2 separate regions of the Homo sapiens genome follow, and region 2 is linked to region 1. Evidence: fine-mapped expression QTL. A gene starts in region 1. The other region holds a variant in brackets. All regions are shown on one strand. Distances are from middle to middle. Region 1 holds the start of RPUSD1 (RNA pseudouridine synthase domain containing 1). Region 2 has its middle 48 kb from the start of GNG13.

Region 1 (2,894 bases):
CCCAGACACACCCGTGAGCGGCTTCAGCAGCACTTTGGAGACAGGATCGCCTGCGTACAGCCCGTGTTCCAGAACCACGAGATCTGTGAGGCTTGGCTTTGGGTTCTCACAACCTGGGGCGCAGAAGGCAGGTGTGAGGTTAGTGGGACTGACCCGGGGCCCAGGCCCACCCCAACGCACGATGCCCGCCCGGTGGGTCCCTGCCTGCCCAGGCCCACCCCAACCCACGATGCCCGCCCGGTGGGTCCCTGCCTGCCACACCCTGCGAGCCCTCGATGCACATGGTGTGGGCCCGGCCCTCCGTGCTGTTCCTGCCAATGGCATGGCTGATGGTTACCCGGCTCTCCTGGATGTGCCCCCGCAGCTGCAGGAGAGGGAGAATCGCACGCAGTTCACGGGGCAGCCCAGTGCTGCCGGGGAGCCCACCTAACACCAAGCAACCACGTAGAGCGTGGTGGGAGGCTCTGAGCCAGGGCTGCCCAAGTGGGGTGGGAATCCTGAGTCCCCACGCCCCACCCCAGGACTGACCAGGTCTTACCAATGCCAGGTAAGCCTTGGTCACGCGCCGCTCCTTGAAGCACCTGTACGCGCTGCCGGCGGCTGCCTTGTTTAGGGCCACGCACAGCGCCCCGCTGGTGGAGAAATCCAGCTGGTGGCAGAACCTGGAGTGGGACAGAGTCCAGAGTCTGAGCCACTTTCCTCCACAGACGCCACCGTGGGGCTCCGGCCGCCCCCCCTACCTGAACCCGTAGCAGGTGTCAGGGTCGGCCAGCTCGGGAAAGCGGTACCGCAGCTGCTTCTGCAGGGTCAGAGTCTCCCGCCACGCCTTGCTGTCAATGCGAACGTCCCAGTGCTTGTTGACCACCAGGAAGTCGCGGCTCCGGTACACGATGGACAGGTTCTCCACGCTGCCTGGCTCCATGGCCGGCCTGCCGAGCCACGCGTGGGTGCGTGTGCTGTGAGCACGTGGTGCGCCCCCAGCCCAGCATACAGAGGTACCCGCACCGCCCCACCCGGGCTCCGGTGCGAAGCCACCGAGCCGGGTCCGCAGCCCTACTGTGCACCTGCATCCTCAGTCCCCGAGATCAGTCCCCAGGGCGTCAGCTGGGGAGTCAAGGAGTCAGCCTGCTCCGGGCTGACCTGAAGGGCCCTGCCTGACCTAAGCCTGGAGAAAGAGCCCGTTCCAAACCTGCCCCACAGATCCTCCCCACAGACCCTCCCCTCCAGGGGATGCACGTGAATGCCTCTGCCCGACGGTGGGGGCGGGGAGGGGCTGCAGCACTACCAGGCCCGGCAGCCAGGTCTGCCCGCAGCGCGGGTTAGGGCTGGGGCCTCCTCGCTCCCCGCAGTCCGCGCAGACCCGCGCCCCGCACAGGCCCGGTGGGCAGGCCGACCCTGGCTCCGAGCCCCTCCCGCGCCCACGCCCACGCCAAGACCAACCTGCTGCCGGGCCGTGCAGTCCAGGCCCCCGATGCCGTGCCCGGCGCCGGCTCCAGCCGCGCGCCCGCGCGCTGGCGACCCAGAGACCCTGGAAGCTCCGCTCCGGACGCCTGGCAGCGCTTCCGCCCTGCACCGCTGCGCGCGCAGCCCCGCCCCCCCCCCCGGCCCGCCCCCGGCCCGCCCCCGCCGCGGAAGGGCGGCTGCGGCGGCCAATGGCGAGCTCCCCAGGACAGGACGCGGGGGCTGCGGAGCAGGAACTCGCCCCGCCCACCCCTCGCGCAGCCCCGCCTCCGCCACGCCAACCAATGGCGCGCGCCGCCGGGCACGCCGGCTGCTGATTGGCGGCGCCCGGCACGCTCGGGGCGGGCAGTGCGCGACGGCGGCGGCGGCGCGGGAGGTTCGGAGCGGGAGCTCGGGCTCGCGGACGGTATGGAGGACTACGAGCAGGAGCTGTGCGGCGTCGAGGATGATTTCCACAACCAGTTCGCGGCCGAGCTGGAGGTGCTGGCAGAGCTGGAAGGTGGGGCGCGGCCCCCGGCCGTTGGGGAGGAGCTGCGAAAGCCGGGACAGTGGCGACCTCGGGGAGGGCGTGCCGGGGGCCGAAGGGGCCTCCACGTCGCCGCTGGCGGGATCTGCTGTCTCGGGGCGGCCGCTGACAATCTCCTCTCCCAGCAGGGGCGTCGACTCCGTCGCCCTCCGGGGTCCCCCTGTTCACCGCGGGCCGACCCCCGCGGACGTTCGAGGAGGCCCTTGCCAGAGGGGACGCGGCCTCCAGTCCCGCCCCAGCCGCATCTGTGGGCAGCAGCCAGGGCGGCGCCAGGAAGAGGCAGGTGGACGCCGACCTGCAGCCGGCCGGGTCCCTGCCCCACGGTAGGTTGGCGGCATTGCCCCAGGGCCTCCGGAGTGGGCGCGAGGCTGAGGAGGCCTCTGGTTCCCTGCATGTGTCTCCCCCAGCCCCCAGGATCAAACGGCCTAGGCTGCAGGTGGTCAAGAGGCTGAACTTCAGATCGGAGGAGATGGAGGAGCCGCCCCCTCCCGACTCCTCGCCGACGGACATCACCCCGCCGCCGAGCCCTGAGGACCTCGCAGAGCTTTGGGGCCACGGGTGTGTGGCTTGGACATGGGCGTCCCATCCCATCTGTCCAGTGGGACTCAGATGGAGCCCATCCCGTGCCCTGGATGAGGCCTGGGGGGTGGGGAGGGTTCCATGGCTGAGAGCAGTCTCGGACACCCATATCCAAGGGTGACCCCACGCTTGAGTTTCTGCCACTGAGCCCCGGTCTCTCTCCAGAGTCTCAGAAGCTGCTGCCGACGTGGGTCTCACACGGGCCTCACCAGCTGCCCGCAATCCCGTCCTGAGGCGGCCCCCCATCTTGGAGGACTACGTCCACGTGACATCCACGGAGGGCGTCCGGGCTTATCTGGTGCTGCGTGCTGACCCCATGGCCCCGGGG
Region 2 (2,894 bases), 60 kb after region 1:
CGTGTGTGTCCCGTGTCTGTAATGTGTCGCGGTTTCCTGTAAACCCCTGTGTGTCCCATATCATCTGGACTAGGTACCTTCTCCCAGCGGCCCGGGGTGCTGACCTGGCTCAGTGCCTCTTCTTTCCTTTGCTGAGTGTTCTTTCCTCTTTTTTGTTGTTCAGATGAGAGTCTGTTGATGTTCCTCCAGCATGTCCACATGGCTGCGGGTGAAGGGCTTCACAGTAGCCCACCGTGGGCAGGTGTTTAAGGAACAACTTCCAGGTTAGGAAAAAGATGAGGCAGAGGAGATGGCCCCACCTGCCACCCAAGAGAAAAAGAGGCTCAGGGAGGGGAGGAAAGGATGTTGCGGCCCGCCATCTGTCTGCACACCAACCGTCAGAGCTGACGGAAGCTTTCGCCAACTTGCTTCCAGCAATGGGCCAACGACAATCAAGGCGGCTATGACGGCCAGTCCAGGGCTGGTTTGAAAGCTGTAACAGTTTGGACAGTGTGGTATGACCTGGGCAGGTATAGATCACACTGGGTCAGGTGTAAACCCTAGAACGGTGAGCCACCAACCCAGACTCAGCGGGTCAGCTGCGGCCCCTGGCCAGGCGGCCCAGGCAAAGTAAGGTGGCCGCAGCCCTGCAGGGAGGGTGGCACTGTCCGCAAACCCTCCCGGTGCCCCGGGTTCCCCAATGCGCTCAGACCTGGGGGTGGGCACGGAGGCCCCCCAGCCTTCCCCTGCCTAGTGCCTGGGGTGCTTCTTCCCAGCGCCTGGAGGTTTCCATCCCTCCCGCACACAGCGCTTGGAGCAAGATGGGAGGGAGGTGCCTGCTTGCTGCCTCCTGCTGGTGTGTGGGAGCCCAGGTGAACACTGGGTGGTGCGGAAAGCCACCAGCGTGATGTGGGAAGGCCATTTGCTAAGCGCCAGGTGGGCCCGGGTGTGGGCTGGGTGGGCAGCCTGGCTCGCGGCGTAAGGGGCAAGCTATCCAGGCAGCAGTGGGCTGAGAATTGCCGGCATCACCTGTCATTTGCTCGCGTGGTCCTCAGTGAATCAAAGTTTGCATGTCCGTGACTGCGGCCATCATCAGAGCTTGTGGGACCACTGGTGGCTCCGTACGGCACTTTCGGGTTAACCAGCATCCAGGTGCACTGAGCCTTGGTCTTAAGCGGCTCCAGCCCCATGCAC[G/A]CCACAGAGAAGGAGTGAAGCGCGTTCCCTGCCCGGCATCCTGAGCCCCACTGGACCTTCTGGCAGGGTGAGGGTCTGGGCCCTGAGGCAGGGAGGCCCAGGGTCTCAGGACGCTTAAGACACTCTGCTTTGCTTTGCTGTATTTCAAAACATTGAGGTGAAGTTGACATTTACATAAAATTAACCACTTAAAGGTCAGCAGTGTGGTGCACGTAACACATTGGCCACACGCACAACCAGCATCTCTGCCTAATTCCAGATATTTTCATCACCCGCCAGAGAACCTTCTGGACCTGTGAGCCGTCATGCCCGCTCTCCCTGTTCCTGCCAGCAGCCCCGAGAGCCGTCCACCTTCTCCCTGCCCAGCGTCTCTGTGGGTTTCCCTGTTCTGGACATTCCAGAGACGGCATCGCAGGACCGGTGCCCTCTGTGTCTGGCGGGTTCACTGGGCATCAGGTTCTCAAGGCTCATCTGAGCGTCGGGGCCTCGCTCCTCTTTGCGGCTGCGTAATGCTCATGGGTGAGCACACCTGGTCTGTTCATCTGGGCTGTCCCCACCTCTGGGCTGCTGCAAACGTTCCGGTGCAAGCACACCCAGGTCCCCGTTTCCCGCTCTCCCGGGTCTACATGCAGATGTGGAGTTGCGGGGTCACGTGGTTCCCGTTTCTAGCTCTCCCAGGTCTACGTGCAGACGTGGAGTTGCGGGGTCACGTGGTCCCCGTTTCTAGCTCTCCCGGGTCTCCGTGCAGACGTGGAGTTGCGGGGTCACGTGGTCGCCGTTTCTAGCTCTCCCGGGTCTACGTGCAGACGTGGAGTTGCGGGGTCATGTGGTCATCCGTCTACACTGAACATTTCGAGGAACCCCCAGACAGTCTCCACGTGGCCACATCATTCTGATGCATGGCAGACGAGCCCGAAAGAGGAGCTTAGTCCCAGAGGGTTCTTGGCTTTGCCCAGGAAAGAATTCAAGGTCGAGCCAGAGGTGGAAGGAAACAGCTTTACTTCAGAGGTGGGGTTACAGCTGTGGCTGCTCCCGCAGGGCAGGGCTTCCACAGACAGCAGCCCGGGGCAGCTCTGCAGTCTCACTTATAGCCACAGTTTTTTTTTTTAAAGACAGAATATTACTCTATTGCCCAGGCTGGAGTGCAGTGGTACGGTCTCAGCTCACTGCAACATCTGCCTCCCGGGTTCAAGCGATTCTTCTGCCTCAGCCTCCCGAGTAGCTGGGACTACAGGTGCCTGCCACGCCAGGCTAATTTTTGTATTTTTGGCACAGACGGGGTTTCACTATGTTGGCCAGGCTGGTCTCAAACTCCTGACTTCAGGTGATCCGCCTGCCTTGGCCTCCCAAAGTGCTGGGATTACAGGTGTGAGCCACTGTACCCGGCCAGAAATGTCAAATTTTGATGAAGTCCAATTTATTTTCTGTGTTGTTGCCGGTGCTGTTGTTGTCATATCCAAGAAAACACTGCCAAATCCAATGTCCTTAAGATTTTCCCAGGTTTTATTCTGAGTCTTACAGTTTTAGCTCTTACATTTAGGTGTTTCATCCTATGTTTTTTGGGTTAATTTTTGTGTATGCTGTTAGGTAAGGGGCCAGCTTCATTCATTATTTTGCATGTGGAGATAAAGCTTTCCCAGTACCATTTGCTGAAAAGGCTGTCCTCTTCCCATTGAATGGTCTCAGAGCCTTTGTCGGAAGGTACCAGGCCACGTGTGGGA

The links. PIP is the estimated chance that this variant, and not a neighbour inherited with it, causes the effect.
Region 2: its variant is fine-mapped to the expression of RPUSD1 in whole blood (INTERVAL, PIP above 0.99).

The regions. Positions count from the first base shown.
Region 1 is chr16:786,816-789,709 of GRCh38, forward strand. It overlaps RPUSD1 (RNA pseudouridine synthase domain containing 1), which reads right to left and starts at 1,566. Exons shown (of 6, transcript NM_058192.3): 1 at 1,441-1,566; 2 at 741-929; 3 at 539-662; 4 at 262-364; 5 at 12-113. The coding sequence starts at 922. CHTF18 (chromosome transmission fidelity factor 18) reads left to right here and starts at 1,805. Exons shown (of 22, transcript NM_022092.3): 1 at 1,805-1,960; 2 at 2,116-2,310; 3 at 2,395-2,545; 4 at 2,732-2,894. The coding sequence starts at 1,870. RefSeq lists an enhancer at 32-839 and silencers at 1,289-1,378, 1,399-1,858, 2,039-2,098.
Region 2 is chr16:847,226-850,119 of GRCh38, forward strand. No RefSeq gene overlaps it. Among named protein-coding and RNA genes, the nearest start is that of GNG13, 48 kb to the left of the region's middle. The variant G/A (reference allele first, on the strand shown) is at 1,174.